Linked DNA regions of Homo sapiens. The protein of the gene in region 1 purifies or fractionates together with the protein of each later gene. This does not show direct contact. Each region holds a gene or a part of one and is shown in the gene's direction. Other genes may lie near its edges. The genes, in order: P2RX1, OMA1, PRMT9 and GLB1L2.

Region 1 (7,031 bases):
GAAGGCTGAGCTGAGCTGACCCTCTCAGATCCAGTTAAGATGGTCTCAGTTAAGGCTGGGCACAGTGGCTCATGCCTGTCATCCCAACACTTTGGGAGGCTGAGGTGGGAGGATCACCTGAGGTCAGGAGTTTGAGATCAGCCTGGCCAACATGGTGAAACCCCGTCTCTACTAAAAATAGAAAAAATTAGCTGGGTGTGGTGGTGCACGCCTGTAATCCCAGCTACTTGGGAGGCTGAGGCAGCAGAATCACTTGAACCCTGGAGGCAGAGTGGAGCTGAGATTGCCCCATTGCACTCCAGCCTGAGTGACAGAGTGAGACTCCATCTCAAAAAAAAAAAAAAAAAGATGGTCTCAGTTAGAGCTCTCCCCGAAGAGCTGATGAGCTCTCTGTCCCTGGTGGTGTACAGGCAGTGGGGAGGAAGCCAGGGAGGCCTTCCTGGAGGAGGTGACACACTGATGGAACCAGCCATAAGCAAAGACCTGGGGGCTGTGGGCTGGGCTGGCCTGCTCTCAGCTTTCTCTCCAGTCCCTCTGGGTCTCTTCTCAACTAAGTCCTCACTCATCCCCTGCGCCTCCACACAGACCTCTTGAAATCACATGTTCTGAGATCTCCAAGTGGAGATCAGAGTGCACCAATCAGGGAGAAGGATGGATAGAAATTATTGGGGGGAGAAACACATCCAGGGACCGTTTCTGCAGCATCTTCTCCATGCCTGGTGCTGTGCCGGGGAACAGAGGTGGGACATGGAATGGAGAGAGGGAGAGGGAGGAACTGAGGGTGAATTAGCCAGACTCCTTTGGTTCCTGTGAGAAAAGTCTAATCAAACAGATTTAAAAGGAAGGGTGGGCCGGGTGCGTTGGCTCACGCCTGTAATCCCAGCACTCTGGGAGGCTAAGGCGGGTGGATCACTTGAGGTCAGGAGTTTGAGACCAGCCTAGCCAACATGGTGAAAACCCATCTCTACTAAAAATACAAAAATTAGCTGGGTGTGGTGGCGCACGCCTGTAATCCCAGCTACTCGGGAGGCTGAAGCAGGAGAATCGATTGAACTTGGGGGGCGGAGATGGCAGTGAGCCGAGATCGCACCACTGCACTCCAGCCTGGGCAACAGGGTGAGACTCCGTCTCAAAAAAAAAAATAAAAAAACAAACAAATAAATGAATATATAAATAAAAGGAAAGGTGGGGGTATCCGGTGGTTTATGTAACTGAAAAATCAGTGTGGGTTTCAGGCCCGGCTGGATCCTCCAGGATGAAGACACAGGAGGAGTAAGGTTTAGAGGGGAGAGGGGATGAGGAATTCCTGCGGGTCCAGTCTTGGTTCTCAAAAGAAGCTGCCCATGACCTATCTCCCTTTCCTGGCTCTTCTTTCCTCTGTGGAGGCTTCATTCTCAGGCAAGTTCTCTGTCTTCACAGTGGTGAAACGGCCACCAGCAGCTCCAAGCTAACATCTCACCAGTTTAGCCACTCCCGAGGCACAAGAGTGGCTCCTTCTCCAGAGCTCCAGCAAAAGTCTCAGGTTCAATTCTTATTGGCCGGGGTCGGGTCCCGTGCCCACCCCAGAACCAATCAATCATTGCAGTCAAGGAAACGGAATGCCCTGATTGGAGGAGCCTGGTTGCGTGCCCACCCTTCCAGGCTCTCCTGTCGGGACACAGTGTGAACCAAGGTCTTGGGGCCGGAGAGGAATAGAGAAGGTGTCACTGGGACTAGGCTGAAGGGGCCATAAAAGGAGCCCAAGGGAGAGGCTGTGAAAGGGAGAGCAGGGGCGATGGCGAAGGCCTTTGAACACCAGGCTGAGGCGCCCGGATTTCTTCTGCAGGCAGAAGGGAGCCAAGACAGGATGTCTAGCAGGGGAGGGCCTGGAGCAGGCAGGGGTGGGCGTGGGGACCGGAGGCAGGACAGCTGTGAAGAGGCCGCAGGGATGGGAAGGGGGGACGGGGCGGGACCCAAGGCAGAGGCAGTGAGCACGGGTGACAGATGTCGTCACCCCGGCAGGCCTCACGCCTGGGGCGGCCCCTGCTCAGCTTCTGCCCATTGTTGCCGCAGCACGTAACACCTGGCACAGCCAGAGCTTCCGACGTCTCAAGAGAAGTGGGAAGTGAGATTTATGCATGAAAGAAACCGCTTGGTTTTTAGAGATTGGTGACGTATTCAAAAAAAAAGAAAGAAAGAAAGAAAGAAAAACAGACCGGGTGCCATGGTGCACGCCTGTAAACCCAGCACTTTGGGAGGCCAAAGTGAGCGGATCACTTCAGCTCAGGGGTCCAAGACCAGCCTGGCCAACACAGTGAGGCCCTGTATCTAAAAAAAAAAAAAAAAATTACCCAGGTGTGGTGGCGCGTGCCTGTAGTCAGTCCCAGCTACTCAGGAGGCTGAGGTGGGAGGATCACCTGAGCCTGGAAAGTTGAGGCTGCAGTGAGCCACGACTGCACCAGTGCACTCCAGCCTGGAGGACAGAGTGACACCCTGTCTCAAAAATAAATAAAGAACAATAAAAATAAAATAATTAAAAACACAAATGGTTGGCCTGAGATTCAATTCCACATTCAGTTAGTCATTCAACACACAGTGTTTGTTGAGTTCCTATTATGTGCCAAGCACTATTCTAGACACTAAAAATACAGAAGTGAACAAAACAAACCAAGATCCTGCACTCAAGGAACTTAACCCAGATGCCCCTCGACTTGTCTGCGGGTTGCATGGGGGCCTCAGGGTGGGCCCCAGTTCTGAGCACATTCCCTCCCAGGCCTGGAGTCTGCTCATGCCCCTCCCCAAGGCTGCTGCTCCCTGACAGCACACGCCCCATCTGGTCAACTCCTGCCTGTGGCCCATGGCCATACCCTGTGTCCCACCAGCCACCTGGCCGGTCCTCCCAACCCATGCCAGAGCTGCCCCCGCACCTGTCCCAGCTCCTCCAGTGTCTCAGCCTTCCCAAAACCAGCCCTTCTGGGTCCTTAGATGAAAGCCGAGGGAGGACCAGAAGGACTGGGGGATCCAATGAATGTGGGGGCATGATGGGGAGGGTGGCTGTGAGGATGCTGCCTGGGTGTTGAGCCTGGGTGATAGGGTGAGGACAGCACCATTCTCCATGACGAGGACACAGGGGAACAAGTTCTAAAGGGAGATGAAGAGTTCAGGTTGATCCAATTGAATTTCTGTCTGTATAGTGGTTAGTGCTTGGCACGAAATAGATTTCGTAGGCCGGGCACAGTGGCTCATGCCTGTAATCCCAGCACTTTGGGAGGCAGAGGTGGGTGGATCACCTGAGGTCAGGAGTTCAAGACCAGCCTGGCCAACATGGTGAAGCCCCGTCTATACTAAAAATACAAAAATTAGCCAGGCGTGTTGGTGTGCGCCTGTAATCCCAGCTCCTCAGGAGGCTGAGGCAGGAAAATCGCTTGAATCCGGGAGGCAGAGGTTGCAGTGAGCCTAGATCGCCTCATTGCACTCCAGTCTGGGGGACAGAGCGAGACTCCGTCTCAAAAAAAAAAAAAAAAAAAAAAGAATTTATCAGGACATCACCACATTGTAAATTGAGGAGCATCTGGACTTAGCGTGGTTTGACTTAGGATTTTTTGACTTTATGGTGGGTTTATTGGGGGTATTAAGAGCCTTTTGACTCAGGATGGGTTTATCAGGTTATAGCCCCATCGTCATTTGAGGAGCATCTGTGTAAGACCCTTGGGTGCGAGATTTTTGTTTGTTTTGTTCACTTTTGTGTTTGTTTTGTTCAACAGTGTTTGGCGCATGAATAGGGGCTGGATAAATACGTGTTTGTTTTTGTTTTTTAGTAGAGACAGCGTGTTACTATGTTGCCCAGGCTGGTCTCTAACTCCTGGCCTCAGGTGATCCTCCCCTCTCAGCCTCCCAAAGTGCTAGAATTGCAGGCCTGAGCCACCACACCCGGCTCATGTTTGTTGAATGATTGAATGTGTGGAATTGAATCTCAGGGGAGAGTGCAGTCTGGAGATAGAATTCTGGGGACACAGCGTGTCTGAGGCAGCTCACTCAGGGAATGGGGGCGGATCAACATTGAAAGAGGAATTTGTGAAGGAGGAACGGAGAACAGTGAAAATGGGAGGTTTTCATTATATGTGCCCACTGAGTGCCAGGCACTGTGCTAATTTCCTTAAGAACTCATAGAGGCCGGGCGCGGTGGCTCCCGCCTGTAATCCCAGCACCTTGGGAGGCCGAGGCGGGCGGATCACGAGGTCAGGAGTTCCAGACCAGCCTGACCAACATGGCGAAACCCTCTCTCTACTAAAAATAAAAAAAATTAGCCGGGCGTGGTGGGGCGCGCCCGTAGTCCCAGCTACTCGGGAGGTTGAGGTGGGAGAATTGCTTGAACCCGGGAGGTGGAGGTTGCAGTGAGCCAAGATCGTGCCACCGCACTCCAGCCTGGGCAACAGACTGAGACTCCATCTCAAAAAAAAAAGAACTCATAGAAGCTTCCCCCAAACACTTACCTAGATGCTTCTGTCTCCTGGGGCCCAGGCTGAGTTTGTAGCAGAGCCTCACTAAACACTTAATGAATAAGCAGCGCCTTTGAGGTAGGTGGCGTCACCTCTGTTTTATTGAGAAAACCAGGGCTCAGAGAGGTGTAGTCTCTAGCCTGAAGCCACACAGCTGGGGAGCAGCAGGGCTGGCACCTGACCCTCAGCCACTCCACCCTGTGGCCTCTTCCTTGAGAAGGCCATTGGAGAGCCCCAGGATGGGGGATTGCTGATGACGAGGTAGAAAGCATGGTGAGGGTTATTTCTGGAAGGGGAGAGGCTTCTGAAGATGCCTGTGTCTGACATCAGGCCCTCTTGGTTGTCTTCCCAGGGTGGTGACAATAAGGCCAGATCAAGGCATGGCTTTGGAGGAGCAGGCCTGGCACCATAGTCATTCTATTATTATTTTTTGTTTTTTTGAGACGGAGTCTCACTCTTGTCGCCTAGGCTGGGGTGCAGAGTGCAATCTTGGCTCACTGCAACCTCCGCCTCTGAGGTTCAAGTGAGTCTCTGCCTCAGCCTCCCAAGTAGCGGGATTACAGGTGCCCGCCACCACCATGCCCGGCTAGTTTTTGTATTTTTAGTAGAGTTGGGGTTTCACCATGTTGGCCAAGCTGGTCTTGAACTCCTGACCTCAGGTGATCCACCTGCCTTGGCCTCCCAAAGTGCTGAGATTACAGGCATGAGCCACCGCGCCCAGCCCATAGTCATTCTATTATCACCAGAGTTGAGGTCATGAATGCCAGATCTGACCGACCTTTCCCTTCGACCTCAAGACCGGCAGCTCCAAGGTGCATCAGCCCCGGCTTGTGGGCTCCAGGTGGCTCTGTTTCCCCTCTGTGCTCTGCCTCCTGGGAGACACGTCGAAGCCAGTGTTGCTCAGTGGAGGTGGGCTGAGTCCTGGGCTGGGTGCCTCAAGCATGGGGACACTTGAGACCGCCACTCCTGCAGGCCTCAGCTTCCCTGTCTCTTGGGAAAAGGTAGAAAGTTCGTTTTGGGCAAAGATAGAAACGTTGCTAAGCTGTTGGGGCTGAAGGTGCCGAGAGGGAGGTCAGTGGCCTGTCCTGCAGAGGGGCCCAGGACAAGGAGAAACTCCTCCTCCCCCCTGCATCAGCTCCTTCTGGCTTGGACACAGAACCAGAGGCCCTCCTGGAGGAAGGGGCCCAAGGAGGCCAGTGGGGGGATGGGCAATGCTCTTGCTCTCCCTGATGGGGCTGGAGGCAGCGTGACAGACTCAGGACACTGAGGATCAGAGGCCTTTGTCATGCCTCCACCTGTTGCTATCTGGGACCTGCAGGGGACAGCAGTGACCAAGCTTAGGCTTCGGGAGCATGTGACTTGGCCCCAGTGCCAAGGTGAGAGGGGGCTTAGAGAAGAGGTGGGTGGGCCATGAGAAGAAAGAAGAGGACATTGGTGGGTGGCCTCCCTGGGGCCTGCAGCAGGGAGAGAGGTGACTCTGGGACTAAGAGGCCTGGAGAGTTCTGTTACCAGATCTGAGCCCTGGGGGAAGGAGCAGGGAGTCCATTGCTTTGAGCTCCCCTTGGACAGGTGAGCTCGGGGTAGGGTAAGGAGTGGAGGGGGATGATACATCTGGCCACAGGTGCACTCACAGATTTGCCCTGCAGGTATACAGCCACACACCCCATACCCCAACACACACACACACACACACACACACACACACACACACGTTACCCTGAATCTCCAAAAAGAGTCTTTCCTCGAGGAAGGGGCCACAGCCTGGAGAGGAGTGTTATCCAGGACTATTTCATTTGCAAGCAACAGAAACCAAATCCGAACTGGCTTAAACAAAGGAAGGACATTTATTGGTTTACGTAACTGAAAAGTCCAGAAGTAGATTTTTCAACTGTGCTTCAGGTATGGCTGAATCCAGGTGCTCAAACAACATTGTCAGGATTCTGCCCCTCTCTATCTCCTGGCCTGGCTTTCCTCTAGGAGAGCTTCATTGTCAGGATTGCTCTCTCCAGAAGGTGGCAAAGATGACTACCATAGTTTTCGTCTTGCAGCCACCCTGCTTAGCCACTCAATAGACAGGATGTTTCTTTCCTGGCAATTCCCAGAAAAGTCCTGGCCTCATTGCTGAAACTCCTCAGGTCATGTGCGTGTCCTTAGACCCGTCACTGTTACTAGGGGGATGGAACATTGATTGGCAAGCCTTGGTTATCTGCCCAACTCCTGGGGCTAAGAGGGAGGTTAGCCTCATGGAACCTTCCAGACTGAAAGTGGAGAATCCAAAGGAACGGGACAGCTCAATGCTGGGAAGGCAAGGCCAGAATTTCCCAAGAAAACTGGAAGACCTCCCGACTGAGCCACTCCCACAGTGCCTCGACCGAGGGGCTGGACGCTGCAAGCCCTCCAGAGGACCACCTCCCTGCTCTGTTTTCCTCGCTGTCTCCCAGGGGGTCCCAGCATGGCTGGATCATAATAACAACTAATGTCTATACTGCATTTATTCTGTGCCATCCCCATTCTGAGTGTTTCTACATGTATGAACTCACTCACTTGATCACT
Region 2 (7,801 bases), on another chromosome or scaffold:
GGAATCTGATCATGTGTCTCAGTCAGTTCAGGTTGCTACAACAAAGTACTGTAGACTGACTGGCTTCAGCAACAAACTATTTTTTCTTACAGTTTGGGAAGCTGAAAGTCTGAAATGAAGATGCCAGCATGGTTGGATTTTGTGAGGACCCTCTTCCTCGTGTACGAACAGCTGTCTTGTTTTATCCTCACGTGGCAGAGTGGGAGCTCTCTGATCCCTTTATCTCCTTACAGACTTGAATCTCATTCATGAGAGCTCCACCCCCATGACCTAATTACCTCCTAAAGGCCCCCATTTCCAAATACTGTTAATATTGGGAATTTAGGGGTCAACATATGAATTTCAGAGGGATACAAACATTCAGTCCATAGCACGTTGATTAAAAAATTGCTTAAAGGGCAGCACAAAGAAGATGTACAGCCAGAACAGAGGACTTATTCAAACTCTAAATCCTCCAGCAGCCGTGACCGGGAAAATGTGCCGCTCAGATCTGCTCTGGGGAGCATAGTTGACTGCCAGGCCCTGCCCCTGACCTTCTGGCTCCCCAACTCCATTTGTAACAAGCGCATGCTCCCCATAGACTGCTCTTAGCCAATGATCATGCATGGTGTGAACACTAGTGGATGCCCATCTCTGCAAAATATGGAACTCCTCTAAGCAGGCAATTTTGGCCTAAGGACTCCTCATTTTCAAAACCTTCTTAGAACTGTGCTACTACCTGAGGTGCTTCTAATCCAGTCTTTCTTCTTTCCCTCTCTCCTTTAACCAGTGTCATGATCTGAGGGCCCTTCCTGTCTATTCCTGCTCCTGCTCCATTATCCTTCCCAGGATTTTCCACGCAGTAAATATGTCTTGCACATCTGATTCCACCCTGGCATCTGCTTTTTAGAGGGCCTGTTGATACAGGTGGACTAGAAGTGGGGTGATCTGAGAAGAAGATGGTAAGATCGGCTCTGAGAGTGGCTCATTAATTGCCCAACTGGCTACAAGAACTCCATCTTGAGTGGAATGTGGGGTCTTGGATAGTGTCTGGCACAAGATAGTGGCCCCCGTGTGGATTTCAGTGATGGCGACCTGGGAAACTGGCCCAGTGGAGGGCAATGCCATTTAGGTGAGATAGTTAATGCACTTGAAAGATGGAGGGAGCAGTGTCTGAAAGAACAGTGCAGTGGGCTGGTTATTGCTACATTGTGTTGATGCCCTGCATGGGATAATGAGAAAGTGAGGGTCATTTGTAAACAGTTAAGGCTGAGTGGGAGTCAGAGGTCTCCTTGGTAGGTAACAGACAGGCTCTTATCACCTGCAGTGGAGGAGTGTGGACAGCAGAGGAGCAAAAGAGATTTTCATGAAAAGAGTTGTAGAGCCCCAGAGATGTTTAAACGCTTAGCCAAGGCAGGTCTGGGCCCTGGTTGGGAAAATCTGGAATCTTGAAGCATGAAATGGGACATCCTGATAGAATCCCTGAGGATACTGACTGCAGATCCTCAGAGCTTGCAGAGGTGGCTGACCCTTCCCTAGTCAAAGCTAACACTTCCCTTAAGTGGGAAGGCAGTGTTGAAGCCTCTAGCGTAAGGAATAAATAGGTGCCCACTCAGGACCTGCCCCATCTCCTCTTAGATATCTGCCAGGGTGATAACTCAGGTTAAATTCCAGCATCACCCAGCTGCCTGTGTGTTGGGCCTGTAAAGGTGTGGGGAGGAAGACTGCATAATGTAGGAGCTAAAGGAACTACCTAGCGTGTACCAGCAGGAGCCAGGAGAGGACCCCTGGAATGGGATTTCTGAAGGTGCTTGATCAAAGTGGGCAGGAACTGTGGCGGGATTGATAAGGAATCAGAGATACCAAGAGGTTGAGGAGGATTTATTATTTAGGTGCACCGGCCCAGTCGGATTAACATCCAAAGGACTGAGCCCCGAACAAAGAGTCAAGTTACCTTTTAAGCATTTTATGGGGTTGGGGGAGATCTGTGCAGGGAGAAGCATGTTACAGAAGCAAGAAACAAAGACAGTTATTTAATTAATTGAGGCATGCATTACATCATTTCTTACTTTTCAAGGAAAAACGTGTCTTAATGGCTTGAGTTTATCTGTCTAGTGACCTTGCAGCGCACAGCTAAAGAAACAGGGTCTTTACAATGCCTGGGAAAGGGAGAGATAAGGCTCACTAGCCACAGAAAAACAGGCAGTTAATATTTAAAGGACTCCAGCTCTTTCTCTTTCTCGGGGGGAGGTGGGTTTTCTTACATAGAACTGAGTTTCTGTTTACACATTCTTTAATTTCTTTTAATTCCTATTCCAGAACAAGCCTGGCTAAATAAAAATTCATTGTCTTGGGGGCACTTTCTTGGGACTTGGGACTGTAGAAGATGGGTAAACTCACTGCTAGGTGACTATTAGAAGCTGAGAGAAAGCCATAGTGCATGCAGAGTAAAGCAGGAATGCCCGAATTGCCCTTGCAAATGGTAGAAGGACAGAGGAGCTGAGGGAAGTGGACTTGCCTGAAAGAATTTTTTTTGTGTGTAGAGCCCGAAGGCAGACAGAGGGGAATGTTCCATGGGAGGCCCAGAGGATGCATCATATTCTATGGCCATGGGGAATGCACTGGCGTGAGGGGCACTAGCATCACTAAGAAGTTCAGAGAAGGCTCTCCTCTGGAGGGAAGGGCTGACGGTAGGAGAGGCAATCACAGGGCTGGGCTTGATAATATCCATTGGGATAACAGGATCCTGAAGTAGTAGAAGCCAGGTGGTGGCTTTAACCATGAGGACACCAGAAGATGTAATTACTGTAACATCTGCCAAGGGCAGAGGAGCAGCCAAGGGGGCTTGATCCACAGGAGGTTGTGGAGGGCTTTAATAGCATAAGGTCTCCCTAGGGGAAAAACAGACGGGCAGCCAACAAGAGTGTTGCCTAACATCTACAACTGGAGGAAGACAAGAAGCTATTTATCCTATGCAGGGAGTAGTTGCTTAATAAAAGGCACTGCTCATTGCTCAAGTCTCAGACCTGAGCCTATCTTCACACTGAGACCACAGAATCTGTTGACTTAAGAGGTTGTTGGGTCCCTATAAAGAAGAATCCTGCAATACTGAAACAAATATTTACTGTAATTAATGATTACTCTTTGGTCTGTGTCCCACGGCCATTTTCTTGACTGATTTTATGTTGAGGAAAGAGGAATACCCAGACATTTCACAGGTGTTACCCAAAGTATGTAACACACATGGCTCCTCTCTAAGTGTGGGGGCTTATGGGGATCAGGTAATAAGCAGAGTCCTGGATAATGTCCAGCTTACAGTGGGTCCAGGAATACACTGACCCATCCAGTAGTCATTTTCTTAGTTCCTGAGTGCATAATTGGGAGTACATATTGGGCAGCTGGAGCAATCTCCACATTGGTAAGAAGCTCAGGGTCCTTGGTCTTGAGTTATCATGGTGGGGAAAGCCAATGGGAAGCCTCTGAAGCTGTCCTTCTTTCCAAGTGAAGATAATAAATCAAAACCGATATTTCATCTGAGGGGATAGTGAGATGATGGTGGAGATTAATGTCATAATTAAAGACCTGAAATATACAAGAGTGGTTGGTCATCCCTGCCATATCTCTACTTAACTTGCCAGTCTGGCCCCTTTGGAAATCAGGTGGACCCAGGATAATGACATAATGGCTCTGCGCAGTCCAAAAGGAGCTGGATCAACTGGAAATTCCAGAGAACATCACACCCATCTATTTCACCAATGACATTATGCTAACCAGGCAAGATGAGCAAGAGGTGGCTAGCATGCTGGAAACTTTGGTAAGACATGTGCACTCCAGAGTTTGGGAGATAAACCCTACGAAGACTGAAGGACCTCCTACTTCAGTTTTTAGGGGTCCAGTTGTCAGGGGTTTTCCAGGATATCCCTTTCAAAGTAAAAGGCAAATCATAAAATACACATAAGATAAACGAAACAGTAACTTACACATTTTCCAAAAGAGATACCTAAAATTGTTCATAGTGTTTATGTCCTTTGACATAGTGTTTATGTCCTTTGAGATGTTTTCATTGTGCACAGAGTGTAAACATAATAAACTAATATGAGACCTCACTACTCATCCATCACAATCCAGTGTTTATTTGTACTGGCTTATTTGTACACTTTTATTTATTTGTGTTTATTTGTACACTTTTTTTTAATCGCCTGTCTTTCCTCACTGTGATATAAAGTTCACGAAATTCAGGTCTGTCTTGTTCACTGCTACATCCTTGGCACTTAAAATGTAGTTGATGCTCAAGAAATATGTTTTGGTGAAATGAATGAAACATACTATACACATAATTTTGGAGCCAGCTACTTTAACCTCCAGACACTTAAGATTATACTTCATCTTTCTTAAAATGCGTCCCTCCAAAAATCATATGAAAGCACTGTTCCCATACTCCAAAGACTATTTCTATGAATGCAGATTCAGAACCAGGAAGCCTTCGTCTTTTGGCAGTCTTCGAGTCTCTTCCCTTTTGGCCGGTACTGCCGTAGAGACTACAACGGACACAGCCTTGCGTGGATCATTCTTTAGAGGACCCAACTCACCAAAGACGGGAGAAAGTTGTTCCTAGGCAAGCAGCCCAGCCCAGGGCCATGTCCCGCCTTAAGCCACACGGAGGCGCTAGAGCGCCACAGTCTCCGCGGGGCCCGGGGCAGCTGGGAGAACGACTCTGGGCGGCTGTATTGACTGCCGGGTGTGGGCGGAGCGAAGGGCGCCCCGGCCGGTATGGCGGGCAGGAAGTGCGGGTGCGCGCCTGCGCATAGGTCGGGTCTGCGGTGTCACCGCTTTCGCTTCTGCTTGAGTCAGTCCTCACGGTGACGCTTTTCCCCAGCTTTTCCGAGTAGGATCGTGCCCAGGGGAGGAGGCAGAGTGCGGCAGTGGGGAGGGGGCGGAGCGCAGAGCGCCTGCGGGGGCGCCCGGGCAAGGAGTGGGGATCCTTGGGGATGGGGGTACGGGAGGAGGCGTGGGTGGGCGATAAGGCTGCGTGGAGGGGAGGGGCGGGGGGCGCCGGGGCGGGAGACGGAGGGGATCTGTCCTGGGGGAGCCCGGTTCTCCCCTAGCCTTGCCCGGGGCACGCCGGTGACCCCGTGTGTCTGCCCCGTGGCAGTACTTTCGTGGGCCGCCTGCCCTCCCCCTCAGCCCGCCCTTATCCGCGGCTCCGCTTTCAGAGCAGGGTTTCTCACCCGCGGGGCTTCGGGCTCCTCACCCGGCACCTCTGCCAGAGGGGACCGCCTCCCGGCGCGTCGGGCATTCGTCTCTTTCACCCCTTCCCTCTTCAGGAGAAACTGAACACGTTTTCCAGCCTAAACTCGGCAGGGCAAACCAGAACATTCCCCGTCTAAGCAGTTCCGGGGAGTTTTAACAATTTCCTCGTAAACTCGTCTACAGAACTCACTGTATACTGTTTAAATGTCGCCTGTGTGTGGAGCAACAGTTTTATTGTGCCGTGCAATCCTCAACAAGAAATTGTAGTCCAGGGAGATGAAAATCCCTTATTTGGCATTCAGGCGTTGATCAAGGTCGTGCAACCCTCGCTAAAAGGATTTAGGTTCATCTCCGTCATTCTCAGCCGGGGTGAAGGGGTGTAGTCTGACATTTGGAAGCTTAAGAACCAAGTCTGCTGCCGTCCAATTCTTTTTTAAAGCCTTCCATCATGTGTGTACTTTGCTTGAATGATTATTTTAAAGTACATGTCCTATTTTTGCCAATCTGACAGCTGTTTCCATAGAAACTAGAGAAGAAATAGTCATTTTCAGCAAGAGTTGTTAAAACTGTCTTCCAGGCTTCAGCTGTGAGTGCCAGTGAGTGCTGCACTTGCTCATTCGGAGATGGTACTTAAAGAATTAAGGATCTGAAATGTTCGTAGAGGCTAACAATCCAAATTGTTTAATTTTCTCACATCATTAATTTTGTTATCCTAGAAGTCTGCCAGCTATGTTTGTTGACCTGCCACAGCTCTTTGAAGAGAATATGTCAGCCCTGATTTTTTTTTTTCTTATGTGCTCTGTAGTCTAGTGATTGGCTCCTTGAAAATGCATGAATAGATTTCTTCCCTCATTCTTTACCCTTTCTTCAGGATAAACCGGGTATTACAAAATATCAGGCACTGTTTCTATTCAAAACGACACTTGGTTGTCAGTGATAGAAATGATAATGGTTTTAATTATATATGCGTAGTGTTGGGGCTTTTGCTTATACCTTCTGTGTCAATAGGATTCTTTTAAAATTTTTACACAAGTCATGAGAAATGAGAAGGAGTTTGCTTGTCATGTGCAGAGCTAAGCAGTGTGAATAGATGTGCATAGACATAGAGATGAGAGCTTTCTTTTTCTGTGGGGTGTAAGTAAATCAGGGAGTTTGGAATTTAGGAATGGGTGAAGGAGGGTTGGGGAAGGTGCCTGGAGAAGTAGTAGGAGGGCCTGGTTCGCCATATGAAGGAGTTTGTGGAAGCCATGGAAAACCAACGAAAGTCCAGGCGTGGTGGCTCATGACTGTAATCCCAACACTTCGCAGTGCAGTATGATCAGTTGAGCCCAGGAGTTAAAAACCAGCCTGGGCAACATAGTGACACACCGTGTCTACAGAAAAAAATTAAAAAATTAGCTGGGCTGGCCAGGTGCGGTGGCTCAGGCCTATAATCCCAACACTTTGGGAGACCGAGGTGAGCAGATCACTTGAGGCCAGGAGTTCGAGACTAGCCTGGGCAATTTGCCGAAACCCCGTCTCTACTAAAAATACAAAAATTAGCCAGATGTGGTAATGCATGCTTGTAATCCCAGCTACTGAGGAGACTGAGGCACGAGAATTGCTTGAACCCAAGAGGCGAGGTTGCAGTGAGCCGAGGTGGCACCACTGCACTCCAGCCTGGACAACGACAAAGTGAGACCCTGTCTCGAAAAGAAAAGAAAAACAATGGGAATTACAGAAATAGTTGCCTGAGTGGAGGTTTAAAAAAGTAATAATACATCCCGTAGAAATTTGAACTGCACAGAAATATATAAGGTGAAAATACTAATAATCCCTCTTAACCACCATCCTGCCATTCAAAATAATTGTGAATAGTTTGGTGTATCTTTTTTCAGATTTATTTTTGTATATACTAGCATATTTTCTCATTACTATTTTTGCAAATTGGGGAGGGTTTTTTAAAATCTGTTTTGTTCTCTGCAGTATCTCTAGCATCCATTATGGTGCCTAGCATTTAGTGGGCACTCATTAAACATTTTCAGAATGAATGAATAATAATACAGTTCAGAGGTCAAAAATACAAAATCTGAATGTTTGGTTAAGGTCGTTAAAATTTTTTAAGTTCATTGCCAACATTTAAAAATTGATAAATTTCACCTAAAATCTGAAATTCTGGCTTTACTTAAAAGTTTTGAATCATTTGGCCACAGCAAGTTCAAATTCCATCATAACTGTTTGCACCTCCTTTAGATGGTCATGAATCTGCATTCACATCAGTATCACTTTGCTGATATTCACTTGCCTGGACCCTACAAACCTGTACTGTGCGATACAGTAGACACTAGCCACATATGGCCATTTAACTGAGTTAAAAATTTCATTCCTCAGATGCACCAGTCACATTTCAAATGCTCAGTAGCCACATGTAGGGGCTACCTTATTGGACAGTGCAGACATGAACATTTTTATCATTGTAGAAAGGTCTGTTGTATGGTGCTTCTTTAGACGTTTGAGTTTGCCACCTCTGTTATACAGAAGTTTTTAGGTAGCATTTATTATTATTTTTAAATTTGTATATCCCTTTGCCAGA
Region 3 (6,868 bases), on another chromosome or scaffold:
TGTTCCCCTTCCTGTGTCCAAGTGTTCTCATTGTTCAATTCCCACCTATGAGTGAGAACATGTGGTGTTTGGTTTTCTATCCTTGCAATAGTTTGCTCAGAATGATGGTTTCCAGCTTCATCCATGTCCCTACAAAGGACATGAGCTCATCCTTTTTTATGGCTGCATAGTATTCCATGGTGTATATGTGCCACATTTTTTCTTTTTTTTTTTTTTTTGAGACGAGTCTCGCTCTGTCACCCAGGCTGGAGTGCAGTGGCATGATCTCGGCTCACTGCAAGCTCCACCTCCCGGGTTCACACCATTCTCCTGCCTCAGCCTCCCAAGTAGCTGGGACTACAGGTGCCTGCCACCATGCCTGGCTAATTTTTTATACTTTTAGTAGAGACGGGGTTTCACCGTGTTAGCCAGGATGGTCTCGATCTCCTGACCTCGTGATCCGACTGCCTTGGCCTCCCAAAGTGCTGGGATTATAGGCGTGAGCCACCGTGCCCGGCCATGTGCCACATTTTCTTAATCCAATCTATCACTGATGGGCATTTGGGTTGGTTCCAAGTCTTTGCTATTGTGAATAGTGCCGCAATAAACATACGAGTGCATGTGTCTATAGCAGCATGATTTATAATCCTTTAGGTGTATACCCAGTAATGGGATGGCTGGGTCAAATGGTATTTCTAGTTCTAGATCCTTGAGGAATCACCACACTGTCTTCCACAATGGTTGAACTAGTTTACAGTCCCACCAACAGTGTAAAATTGTTCCTATTTCTCCACATCCTCTCCAGCACCTGTTGTTTCCTGACTTTTTAATGATCGCCATTCTAACTGGTGTGAGATGGTATCTCATTGTGGTTATGATTTGCATTTCTCTGATGGCCAGTGACAATGAGCATTTTTTCCTGTGTCTGTTGGCTGCACAAATGTCTTCTTTTGAGAAGTGTCTGTTCATAGCCTTCGCCCAATTTTTGATGGGGTTGTTTGATTTTTTCTTGTAAATTTGTTTAAGTTCTTTGTAGATTCTGGATATTAGCCCTTTGTCAGATGGGTAGATTGCAAAAATTTTCTCCCATTCTGTAGGTTGCCTGTTCACTCTGATGGTAGTTTCTTTTGCTATGCAGAAGCTCTTTAGTTTAATTAGATCCCATTTGTCAATTTTGGCTTTTGTTGCCATTGCTTTTGGTGTTTTAGTCATGATGTCCTTGCCCATGCCTATGTCCTGAATGGTATTGCCTAGGATTTCTTTTAGCGTTTTTATGGTTTTAGGTCTAACATTTAAGTCTTTAATCCATCTTCAATTAATTTTTGTATAAGGTGTAAGGAAGGGATCTAGTTTCAGCTTTCTACATATGGCTAGCCAGTTTGCCCAGCACCATTTATTAAATAGGGAATCCTTTCCCCATTTCTTGTTTTTGTCAGGTTTGTGAAAGATCAGATGGTTGTAGATGTGTGGTATTGTTTCTAATGGCTCTGTTCTGTACCATTGGTCTATATCTCTGTTTTGGTACCAGTACCTTGCTGTTTTGGTTACTATAGCCTTATAGTATAGTTTGAAGTCAGGTAGCATGATGCCTCCAGCTTTGTTCTTTTGGCTTAGGATTGTCGTGACAATGCGGGCTCTTTTTTGGTTCTATATGAACTTTAAAGTAGTTTTTTCAAATTCTGTGAAGAAAGTTATTGTTAGCTTGATGGGGATGGCACTGAATCTGTAAATTACCTTGGGCGGTGTGGCCATTTTCACGATATTGATTCTTCCTATCCATGAGCATGGAATGTTCTTCCATTTGTTTGTGTCCTCTCTTATTTCATTGAGCAGTGGTTTGTAATTCTCCTTGAAGAGGTCCTTCACGTCCCTTGTAAGTTGGATTCCTAGGTATTTTATTCTTTTTGAAGCAATTGTGAATGGGAATTCACTCATGATTTGGCTCTCTGTCTGTTATTGGTGTATAGAAATGCCTGTGATTTTTGCACATTGATTTTGTATCCTGACACTTTGCTGAAGTTGCTTATCAGCTTAAGGAGATTTTGGGCTGAGATGATGGGGTTTTCTAAATATACAATCATGTCATCTGCAAACAGGGACAATTTGACTTCCTCTTTTCCTAATTGAATACCCTTTATTTCTTTCTCCTGCCTGTTTGCCCTGGCCAGAACTTCCAACACTATGTTGAATAGGAGTGGTGAGAGAGGGCATCCCTGTCTTGTGCCAGTTTTCAAAGGGAATGCTTCCAGTTTTTGCCCATTCAGTATGATATTGGCTGTGGGTCTGTCATAAATAGCTCTTATTATTTTGAGATACATCCCATCAATACCTAATTTATTGAGAGTTTTTAGCATGAAAGGCTGTTGCCAATTCCAGTTTCTTAAGGTGACCAGATGTTCCATGTTATTTGTGTCATTCCATTTTTTCAAATGACCTATTCTATGTACAGAAAATCTTGAAGTTATAGATAAACCACGAAAAAATGCAAATAATTGGCCTGGTGCAGTGGCTCATGCCTGTAATCCCAGCACTTTGGGGGGCTGAGGCGGGCGGATCACCTGAGGTCAGGAGCTTGAGACCAGCCTGACCAACATGGAGAAACCCTGTCTCTACTAAAAAGACAAAATTACCCGGGCGTGGTGGTGCATGCCTGTAATCCCAGCTACTCGGAAGGCTGAGGCAGGAGAATCGCTTGAACTTGGGAGGTAGAGGTTGCAGTGAGCCGAGATCGCACCACTGCACTCCAGCCTGGCGACAGAGTGAGGCTCTGTCTCAAAAAAAAAAAAAAAAAAAAAAAAAAAAAAAAGAAAAAAAAGAAAAGAAAGAAAAGAAAGAAGAAAAAATCAAAGTCCTTACTTTGCATCATAATCCGCTAGGTGCAAAGGTCACAAAAGTGATTAAGAATAGCTCACAATGTAGTGAGCTGGAACCTGAAAAACGGATTAGGATTTACACAGGCGAGTGCTCAGAAAAAAGGGTAGTTCAGATAATTGGATCAGAAGAGAAGGCAAAAATGCATGACGTGTTTTTGAGAATTAGAGGAGCCCTCAAAATGTATTAGTGTGATATGCAAAATGCTCGATTTAAGATATTATCCATTAATGAATTTGAAAATGGGGACAAAAATAACTTTTCAGCCGTAATAACTATGCTCCCCTCCCTTTGAGTTTCGAATCTGTATCTTAGAGGCCACACTTGAATGTGGAAAAACTTTGTATTAATGTAAACACTATACAGTGATAAGACACGAACAGTGAAATAACCCCTAAGCTCATCTTATAACTGAACAGATAGGTGGTCAGAGAACTTGGATTTGAACCATGCCTATGCCACTAGCTGGTTGTGTGACCTCCAGCAAGTCACTTCTCAAGATACCACGTTTGCCATCATTAAGACGAGTGTGATCCAAAGGTCCACCTAGCCAGGTTTTGTGAGAATGATTTGAAATGCCTGTGAAAGCATTTCCTCTACCACGTCTGAGATGCTTTTGTTATCTCCAGGTTCTTTCAGGTCTTGAAATTTTGTGCATCACGATCCAAAATGTCTTAAGCATCATCACAAATGCTTGACCGTCCCTCATGAGCGGGTGGCGCTTCGCGCTGCCTGGGTCTGTACAACAGGGTCTTGCAGTCGAAAGCCACACACTCCCGGAGTGCAAGAGGGAGAGAAAGCTCTGCTTTCAGCCGGGAAAAAAAAAGGGCGCAAGACCGGACAGGTCCTGCCACAGACGTTCTCCTATGCTCACGCACAGTGGTCGCTCCTGCGGGAATGGGCAGCAGTGACGTGCCCACGTCGGGCGCGCTGACGTTCGCGTAGCGTGCGCCGCTGGCCAGGTGCGCAATAGTGGGGTATGCGTCACGGTCTGCGCCGCCCGCGGGGCCAGGACGGGGCGGAGCTTCCGCCTGGGCTGGGGTTGGCGAGTTCACCCGCGGCGGAGGGTAACTTTGCTGTGCTGTTTTTTGAGCAGTTGTCTGGTCCCTGGAAGTGTAGCATCGAGAGAGTTTTCTAATTACGTTTACAAAATATCTTCCCTTTGGCCATACAAGTGGTGACTGCCATGTCGAACTCGCGGCCCAGGTCCCGCCGAGACGCCGGGGGTGGCGCTGGGGCAGCCGGCCGGGACGAGCTGGTGTCGCGGTCCTTGCAGAGCGCAGAGCACTGTCTGGGCGTCCAGGACTTCGGCACTGCCTATGCCCACTACCTCCTCGTGCTCAGCCTGGCGCCGGAGCTGAAACACGACGTGAAGGTGAGGGTCCTTTTTTCTCACTTGCTGGCAGATCCAACGTCCTCGTAAAAAAAAAAAAAAAAACAGAAAAAAAAAAAAGCGGAGGGGCTAGGGTGCCTGGGTGGGTGGTTGCTGTTAATATTTAGGGCCCTTTTTTCTCACTTGCTGGCCGATCCAACGTCCTCGTAAAAAAAAAGAAAAGAAAAAAGGCGGAGGGGCTAGGGTGCTTGGTTGGGTGTTTGCTATTAATGTTTACTGTTCAACCTTGACATCTTTCGTTTATTCACACCTACGACCAGCCCAGAGGAAAATCCTGCCGTCTTCACCTTCGAAATATGTCCAGAATCTTACCAGTTCTCACCATCTTCCCCTTTACTACCCTGGTTCGAGCTTCAGTCATCTGCCGGCTGTTGCAGTCGGCTCTCAACTGAGCTCTCTCCTGCAGTCTGTGTCAACATAGCTAGCTTTTTGCAACAAAAGTCAAATGTTGTCATTTCTCAGTTTCAAAACTTTCATCTCGTTTAAAATTTTAAAGGCCCTCGAATTGGAAATGAGGTCTCACGTGATCCTCTTCTCCTTATATCTAATTTAAGCATGCCCTGGCTTGAGGGCTTTTGGATTTGTTATATTGTGTGTAGTAGGAATATAGTGGGCCTCTAGTTGAATAAAGTGTGTAATTAGCCTAAAGTGATTATCATTTAATGATGCGTTCTTTAAACTTCAATTATTGGATTATTTGCAACAATTACTCTGTTGAAATGCTGTTCTTTTTTGAAGTACTTTTAGAATCTAAATTACGAAAAATGATTTAACTTAAAATTGCAATTACTTTGCTTCATTTAGACTGAGGGTTTGTCAACCTCAGCACTATTGACATTTTGAATGGGATAATTCTTTGTTATGGGGGAGGGGAGGTGTCCTGTGCATTGCAGTATGTTTGGCAGCATCCTTGATCTCTACCCACTAAATGTCAGTAGCGTCTAGATGTTTGTAGTTCATGTAAACTTAGTGTAAATTTCAGGACCAGCTGTCCTACTTGAGGAGGAGATGATATGTTGAGATACAGTTTGCTTCTCTTGGTAGGCAGCAATAGAAAAATGGATCAACTCAAGTGATCTTTCCTCAGTTACTTGTTTCTTAGTTTCCTCTTCTGTGAAACAGGGACGCAGCCTCTCTTAAAAATGTTTACTGGGTATTAAAAGTATATTTAGACTGGGTGTGCTGGCTCAGGCCTGTAATCCCAGCACTTTGGGAGGCGGAGGCGGGTGGATCACAAGGTCAGGAGTTTGAGACCAGCCTGGCCAATATGGTGAAAACCTGTCTCTACTAAAAATTAAAAAATTAGGCCGGGCGCGGTGGCTCACGCCTGTAATCCCAGCACTTTGGGAGGCAGAGACGGGTGGATCACCTGAGGTCAGTAGTTCGAGACCAGCCTCAACATGGAGAAACCCCGTCTCTACTAAAAGTACAAAATTAGCTGGGCGTGGTGGTGCATGCCTGTAATCACAGCTACTCGAGAGGCTGAGGCAGGAGAATTGCTTGAACCTGGGAGGCAGAGGTTGTGGTGAGCCGAGATCACGCCATTGCGCTCCAGCCTGGGCAACAAGAGCGAAACTCTGTCTCAGAAAAAAAAATAAAAATAAAAAATTAGCTGGGCGTGGTGGCATGTGCCTGTAGTCCCAGCTACTCAGGAGGCTGACGCAGAAGAATTGCTTGAACTCGGGAGGCGGAGGTTGCAGTAAGTCCAGATTGTGCCATTGCACTCCAGCCTGGGCGACAGTGTATGACTCCATCTCAAAAAGAAAAAATAAAAAAGTATATTTAAAATTTGTAGTGCAATGCCTGACATTCAGTAGGGTAAGCAACTAGTCTGTTTCCTGCCGAACAAAGTCTGTGTTTGTTTGTATGGGCCCCCTGTAAAATGCTCATTGCCTGCTACTCTATTCCCCATACCCAAACTCCGGCCACACCAAGCCACTTATCTGTAGACCCTCTGATCCATTTCATATAATCTGTGCGGGGTTTTTTTTTTTTTTATAGAGTCTCACTGTATCACGCAGGCTGGAATGCAGTGGTGCGATCTCGGTTCACTGCAACCTCCACCTCCTGGGTTCAAGCAATTCTCCTGCCTCAGCCTCCTGAGTAGCAGGGATTATAGGTGTTCGCCACCGTGCTTGGCTAATTTTTATATTTTTAGTAGAGATGGGGTTTCACCGTGTTGGCCATGCTGGTCTTCAACTCCTGACCTCAGGTGATCTGCCTGCCTTGGCCTCCCAAAGGGCTGGGATTACAGGCATGAGCCACCGTGCCCGGCCAGAATCTCCTTTCTTATCCTTGTCTCTCTAGTAAACTCCCTCAAGATTCAGTTCCAAATATCAACGCTTTTGTATAAAATATGTGAAGATGATTTAAAATGTTTTAATGACTAAAGCTTTCCCTCTTTCCACAGTATTGCAGCATGGAGAATGGATGGAGGGAGATGCAGTTGGAATTAGAGTGACAGCGTTAAGGCTGTTGCTGTAGTCCAGCAAGTGGTTACAAGGGCCAGATTAGGTTGTAACTGTGGGAATGGAGAGGAGGTAACAGATTTAAAGATATTGAGAGAGCATTGGCTAGGTTTGAAACAGTGTATGTGGAGTTAAGGTACCATTATAAGGTGACTTT
Region 4 (7,031 bases), on another chromosome or scaffold:
GGCCGTCTACCTGTCCACTCTCCGCTTGTATTTGTGAGACGTATCAGGAAGGACAGGACAGAGATGCTTGTGTTCACTTAGCCCTGTGCATCCTGCGGACTTTGAGTTCAGCCTGCTCAGTTTCAGACTGGCCTCCTGTCTTCAAAGGGCTTCTGGCTTGAGGGGAGGGGTCTGGGTGGAGGGTCCCACCCAGTGGGCTGCTGGAGGGCAGGGACAGGGCAGAGCTATGGTATGGTGTCAGGGAGACCCAGGTGTGCAGTCCCGCTCTGCCGCTACCTGAGGCCAATTATTGTGACCTAGAGGCAAGTTATTTCACTTCCCCGGAGCCCCAGCTGTCGCTTGCGTTCCTTCACTGGCAATCAGAGGCTTTCGTCCTGCAGCAGAGCATCAGGGTGGCCTGGCTTGCCAGGCTGGCTCAGCCTCTCTGGTGTGTGCCTAGGCTGTGCCTGTGAACTGACTGTTAGGCAGATAGCAGGCAGGTGAGGGGCCCCAGGATAAGGCTGTGCCACTGGGGTGGGCGTGGGCATGCCCGGGTGTCAGCCAAACAGAGCGCACCTTTCTTGAGCATATGTTTCACTGATAGAAAGCCACTGAAAATAGCATTTTAAATTTTAAACGGAACATGTTATGGGGTAGAATACAGAATTAGCCCTTATCAAGAAATCAGAGAGGAATCTTTGTTTACATCATTACCTTGGACCGGATGCTTGGGGTGCCAAGGAAGGATCAGGCTCTGGTTCGTACAAAAGAACAAGGAACAGAGTGCATGCTCGGCTTGTAGAAGTCACAGTTGATTGAGATCAGGTGCACAGCGAGTGACTGCCTCTCAGCTCTGTGCTGCTGTGGCGGAGTCTCCAAGACAACAAGATAAGTCTCCTGGCGTCCTGGCTGACTTATTTATTTATTTATTTTTGTGAGACACAGTCTCACTCTGTCACCCAGGCTAGGGTGCAATGGCACAATCTCAGTTCACTGCAACTTCTGCCTCTTGGGTTCAAGTGATCCTCCCACCTCAGCCTCCCAAGTAGTTGGGATTACAGGCATGCACCACCAACCCTGGCTAATTTTTTTGTGTATTTTAGTAGAGAGGGGGTTTCACCATGCTGGCCAGGCTGGTCTCGAACTCCTGGCCTCAAGTGATCCACCTGCCTTAGCCTCCCAAAGTGTTGGGGTTACAGGTGTGAGCCACCGCGCCTGACTGTGGCTGACTTCTAACTGGAGGTGGGAAACGGTGTCAGGGCCGCTTACTTTATTGTGCTGGTGGATTGAGAAGGGTCTGGGGTCACCTAGAAGGTCCCTGGCTTTGAGACAGTGCTTTGTCTCTCTCTCTCCTCTTCCCTTTAACAGTCTTGGCCACCATCAACTTGCAGTCAACACACGAGCTGCAGCTACTGACCACCTTTCTCTTCAACGTCCAGGTAAGTCCAGCCCCAGGGAAGCTGCGGCCCGCCCTGCTCAGCGGCCTATGGGAATTCTGAATGCCTGTCAGCGTGCTCAGCTTCCCCAGCGCAGGGAGCTGGACTCAGGGCTGATGGCCTCTGGCCCCCCGCCCATGCCACTGTGTGCCTGCAAGGCCCGCTGCCCAGAAACACCTCTGAGGGCTGCTGTGTAGGCTGATGCAGTGTGGACATCACCCACTGCCCTGAGAGAGGGGCCCTTTTGGTGCACTCCTAGAGGACTCGACTTTTGTGGCCTCAACTAGCTCCAGACTTGCTCCCAGGGATTGAGGGGGGAAGGAAAAACTTCCCTGTCCTATACTACACAGGCATCCGACCTTAACCTGTGAGGCCCCTGCAATCCTAGAAAGATTATTGTCATCAGCAAGGCAGAAAGCCTGGTCCACTCCAGGTGCGGAGAGAGGGAGGAGTTTCCAGATGTCCCTCAATATCTGTCAGACTGATGGGCATTTATGCCACCCTGTAGTTCTGACTGGCCTCTTTCTCGAGCTCGCGTGCCCCTCCGAAGCAGGTGGATGGACAGGGCCATGCTGCAGCCCTCTGCAGACCTGAGAGGCCCCAGCTGTCCCCTGGCTCACTGAGGGGCGTGGATGCTCCAGACTGCCCCCACGCTGCATCGTCACACTGGTCCTGGGCCTGGAGTGGAGTTGTGCTTGGATGGACAGGCATGGATGGCTGTGGAGACGCTGGGCTGCTTTCCATTCCGGCTGATGGCCTTTCAGAGCAGGGGCTGTGTCCTCAGGCACATCTGCGTGGAGCCACCACAGCCGTGTGGGGCCGTGTGTGTGTTTGATGTGGCTTCTCCTGGAGTTCAGCTGCCAGAGTAGGCGAGGAGGCTCCCAGGAGGAGGTGGGAGGGCTGGCCCCGCTCCCAGGCAGGCTCCTGTGACGCAGATCAGGCGCGATCCAGCTGGGTCTCTGCCTTCCTTTCTTGGCATTTCCTGAGTGCCTGCCCATGTGTGCAGTGGAGTGGGGGGTGCCTCTCATACTTGTGACTGAGATGACAGGGTCTCCTGCCCTGTGCTGTGTGACCTTGGGCAAGTTACTTAACCTCTCTGTGCGTCTCTCTTCTTCTAAGTGGGGATGATGAGAGTACATTTCCTTATGGTGTCAACTCACAGGGTTGTTTGAAGATTAAATGAGGTAATATTTGGAAAGTGCCTAGCACAGCAGCTGATACAGCAGAATGCCTTATGTTTAGCCTTCAAGGTCATCCTTAGAGGGGTAGCCACGCGCGAGCCTTCCCAGGCCAGCTGTCCTGCTAACAGAATGGCCCTGCTGAAGGGCTTTATGTGCGCAGTCCAGAGATGTCTGTTTTCCTGAAGGAAGGGGACTTGGACACCTCCCTGTTTAAATCAAGGGCTCTCTGAATGCACAGCACAGGCCTCCAGGTGTGCTCCATGTGGCGATGTCCGATAGCACCTCACTCGTCCTCTGTGTCCATGACCCGTGATGGACAGAACTATGCAAGTGTTTCTTGAGCACCTCCTACCTGCCAGGAACAGTGTGCTAAGGGTGTTATGTGCACTCTCCCGTTTAATTCTCCCAATAGTCATATGAGCCAGTGAAGGAGACAGCTATAGAGTGTATAAGACACCCTGTAAGTAGTGGCTTGGGGACTGCAGAACAGTCTCACTACAGAGCTCCAGCTCTTAGCCAGTTGTGCAGTGCAGTGGCCTGGCCCATGGGTGGACACCCACCTCCGCAGCTCTGGTACCCTCAAGCCAACAACCTTGCTTCTGGCATGGGAGATTTCTGACTTGTGGGACTTTGAATCTGCTTCTCCCTTTTTAGTGATTTAAACGTGGTATGGTATGTCTCCTTCTTGGAAGGTAGGTGGCTTGTAAAGAAAACCAAGCCGCCAGTCTTGCTAGAAGAATTCTTGTAACTACTTTGGCTTTAACCCGGGTATGGCTGGTACCTTCTACTCAATGGACCGTGAGTTTGTCCCATCCCCCTGGATCAGATTTTGTTGCTGTGTATGCGGTATCCCTCTAAACATAAGGCTATCACTGACCTAGAGATACTTGACAAGCTGTCACTGAATAAGTGAGGAAGGCTCTCTCATGCAGAGCCTGAAATACTAGCGTGTTAGTCTTTACACCTCCCCCAGGTGCTCTGGGCTTCTGCAAACGTGGCAGAGTGGAGCATGGTCCCAGGAATGATCTTGGCCTCCTTGGGGCCGTCCTATGCCAAAGTCAGTATTCAGAAAGAAGATTTAAGATTTGTTGAGTGGCCCAGCCAAGGTATAAATCCAAACTGTCAGTGCAGAACCTGCACCATGAATAGCTGTGCTGTAAGGCCCTGATTTTCTGGTTCAGAAAATGCTGCAAACTGCTGTTTAAACTGAGTTGGACCTTGAAGAGGGCCCACTCTGCAGCGTCTGATTTTTCTGCTAATGGAGCCAGTACCCAGGGTGGGGGGGAGGGATCTGCATCCACAGTATCCCTCTCAGATATGGAGTTGTCCTGGGTAAAACATCCCCCTTCCCTGGAAGAGGACAGGCAAAGCTTGGCTTGATCCTGGACCAGTGTCTTCTTGCTAACACGTATGCAACATTAAAACCATCAGGGTTTGCCATATCGACTTTGGGAGCTTTATCTGCTCTATACCTGCAGGAGGCCACATGTGGCAGGAGAACTGGTGTGCAGGCGAATTTGGCCCTCACCTATGCCCCACCTCCAAAGACCTCTAAGGCAGTGGGTATGCAGACAGGGAAGAGTAGAGAGGGCAGAGATCCTGGGGCTCCCCTCCATGAAGAGCTTCCCTCTTTTTTGTCTGGCCAGCCTGCTTGTCTAACTCTCATTTTGTGGTGTCCAGGGGACTCAGCCCAAGATGGTGATGGAGTACTGGACGGGGTGGTTTGACTCGTGGGGAGGCCCTCACAATATCTTGGATTCTTCTGGTGAGTGCTTGCGGTGACTACATCCAGAATGTGTGCTACTTAAGAAGTGAGGATGAGTTTCAGTCACCTGCTAACTAATGTAAGCCATAGGGGGTGCAAGGCTGCTGGGATTATCTGTGTGCAGAAGTTGGCTTTGGATATTCCTGAGTCATTTGTCTTGACACTTGGATGAATGGGAGGGCTTTTAACATTGCTTGTTCGTGTTTTTGTAATTAGAAGGGTAATGCATGCCTATTGCAAACATCCAGAAAATACAGAAAAAGTATAGAGAAGAAATAAAATTCCCAGAGCACAGAGAAAACACTTAGCTGTTTACCACGCAGGCAGTTCTCTCTGTATCTCTGCCGACAGCTCTATACGCACACACAGATAGAGACAGATGCCATCACACTCCGCTGCATGTCACCTGCTTGTGCCAGTTAATGCACATACGGACAGCTTTCTGTATGACCAAATACAGATTTACATGACTGTTTTAAAGAATGTGAAGAGCCCCATTCTAAACCACACTTTGTGGACACAGTCTCCCGGGTTGTTTCTGGTGGTTCTGTTAAGCGCACGCCATCCCGGCGAGCATCCCGGTGAGCATCCCGGAGCCTGCGCTCTGCGCACCCGGCTTTCCCTGGGATGAGCGGCACAGGGGCTCCTCGGCACCGTGTAGATGTGCATGCTCGCCCCTCAGCCCCCGGAAAGACGGCAGCTTCAGCCGCTGCTGCTGAATGGGTGCACCCATTTCCCACAGATTCAGCAACACCGAGTATTAAAATAACTTTTAATATTTGTCTACTCAGTACATCATTGTTTAGTCTGCATTTCTTTGATTTATATTGATAAAATATATATTTATTAACCATTTGTTTTTCTCCTTTGCTATGATCTTGTTATGTCATGGTTCATTTCCTAACAAAGGTAGAATAGGAGGTGTCAGAGTTTTCTCTCTAAGGATGCATCCCATCTTTGTGCACTTGATACACCTGGTCAGGCAGACTCACATGGAGACTGTGCTGGCTGGAAGGCCCTGGCCGACCTGGGCTGCAGGTGGTCCACATGGAGCTCAGAGACTTGACCAGGATTGACAGACAACTGGAGGCTCGAGCTCTGGGGCCATGATTCTGGCCCACACTTCCTCCTCCACCCCTAATCTTCTGTGATTGGGGTTTTATGAGAGCTAGAAGGACAGAGTGACAAAGTTGGCCTTGAGGTTTTGAGGTGGGACTGGGAAAGAGGAGAGTAGTGAAGGGACCCCGGCTCATCTCAGACTTTAACTCACTCTGCACATCCCCTTTCTCCCTCCTCCGGCAGAGGTTTTGAAAACCGTGTCTGCCATTGTGGACGCCGGCTCCTCCATCAACCTCTACATGTTCCACGGAGGCACCAACTTTGGCTTCATGAATGGAGCCATGCACTTCCATGACTACAAGTCAGATGTCACCAGCTATGGCAAGTATTCATCAGCACTGCTCTCCCTGGTCTGCCCTGCATGGGCATGGCTGGGACTTGCTATGGAGAGGCCCTCAGGGTCAACTTCTGGCACCTTCGTGTCTTTGGCAATAGAGTACCTGGAGAAGGTACTTGCCTGGACAGTCATGTTACACTCCCAGAGGAGGGAAGCCTCAAGGGAGGTGGTGTGCCTGTGAGCTGGTCACTCTACAGAGAGGCCTCTTTGGCAAAGGTTGGCCTGAGGAAGTGGAAGGAGACCGCCCTAGGGGGACAGGGAGGGACGGTGGCCTCCCCTCCCTGCCCAGGCCCTTGAGGAGGTGTGATCCTGCCTCCTTTAGGTTGAGAGTCCCAGAAAGTAGAAATTACACCTGCAGCTAGAAATTTAGGGCCATGCTGTGATCATGGACAGTTTGTGTTTTTTTGAATTTGTGAGAGAGTTATCACTCTGACACCCAGGCTGGAGTGTAGTAGTGTGATCATAGCTCACTGCAGCCTCAAATACCTGGGCTCAAGTGATCCTCCTGCTTCGGCCTCCTGAGTAGCTGGGACTACAGGTGTGCACCCCCACCTCTGGCTAATTTTTAAAATTTTTTGTAGAGGTGGGGGTCTCGCTATGTTGCCCAGGCTGGTCTGGAACTCCTGGCCTCGAGCGATCCTCCTGCCTTGGCCTCCCAAAGTGCTGGGATTACAGGTGCGAGCTGCTGCACAAGCGATCCTCTTGCCTTGGCCTCCCAAAGTGCTGGGATTACAGGTGTGAGCCACTGCACAAGCGATCCTCCTGCCTTGGCCTCCCAAAGTGCTGGGATTGCAGGTGTGAGCCGCTGCACCTGGCCTTATGGACGCTTGTTGTAGTTGCCTGGTCTTTCATGTTTACAGTATTTTGACTGAATGGCTCAAAAGTGTCTTGCCTCCCCAATGGCTGAGATGAAGACCTGTGGCCCTTCCAAGCTTCTCCCTGTTCTTCGTGCTACATGTGCTGTGCTGGGGACAGGAATGACCATGACAGGGCCCGGTGTCTTGCAGACTATGATGCTGTGCTGACAGAAGCCGGCGATTACACGGCCAAGTACATGAAGCTTCGAGACTTCTTCGGCTCCATCTCAGGTACCCAGCAGACAGCAGACTCAAGTTCCAACTCAGGCCCTCGCTTCTGCTCTCAGACCCCTAAAGAGTTACTTCCTTACTGTCCCACCTCGACCCCAGTTGATCTGCGTGCAAGAATATCCTAGA

The links.
Region 2: the proteins of P2RX1 (region 1) and OMA1 purify together in Homo sapiens (affinity purification with mass spectrometry; 2 studies listed by BioGRID and IntAct, with this or other methods). This does not show direct contact.
Region 3: the proteins of P2RX1 (region 1) and PRMT9 purify together in Homo sapiens (affinity purification with mass spectrometry; 2 studies listed by BioGRID and IntAct, with this or other methods). This does not show direct contact.
Region 4: the proteins of P2RX1 (region 1) and GLB1L2 purify together in Homo sapiens (affinity purification with mass spectrometry; 2 studies listed by BioGRID and IntAct, with this or other methods). This does not show direct contact.

The regions. Positions count from the first base shown.
Region 1 is NC_000017.11:3,906,449-3,913,479, reverse strand, and holds part of P2RX1 (P2X purinoceptor 1), read left to right. Parts: intron 1-7,031.
Region 2 is NC_000001.11:58,543,727-58,551,527, reverse strand, and holds the start of OMA1 (metalloendopeptidase OMA1, mitochondrial precursor), read left to right. Parts: upstream 1-4,801; 5' UTR 4,802-4,825; intron 4,826-7,801. UniProt on the Homo sapiens protein: Metalloprotease that is part of the quality control system in the inner membrane of mitochondria. Activated in response to various mitochondrial stress, leading to the proteolytic cleavage of target proteins, such as OPA1, UQCC3 and DELE1.
Region 3 is NC_000004.12:147,681,156-147,688,023, reverse strand, and holds the start of PRMT9 (protein arginine N-methyltransferase 9), read left to right. Parts: upstream 1-3,860; 5' UTR 3,861-4,036; coding exon 4,037-4,225; intron 4,226-6,868. UniProt on the Homo sapiens protein: Arginine methyltransferase that can both catalyze the formation of omega-N monomethylarginine (MMA) and symmetrical dimethylarginine (sDMA). Specifically mediates the symmetrical dimethylation of SF3B2.
Region 4 is NC_000011.10:134,362,981-134,370,011, forward strand, and holds part of GLB1L2 (beta-galactosidase-1-like protein 2 isoform b precursor), read left to right. Parts: intron 1-1,347; coding exon 1,348-1,418; intron 1,419-4,276; coding exon 4,277-4,361; intron 4,362-5,663; coding exon 5,664-5,801; intron 5,802-6,824; coding exon 6,825-6,905; intron 6,906-7,031.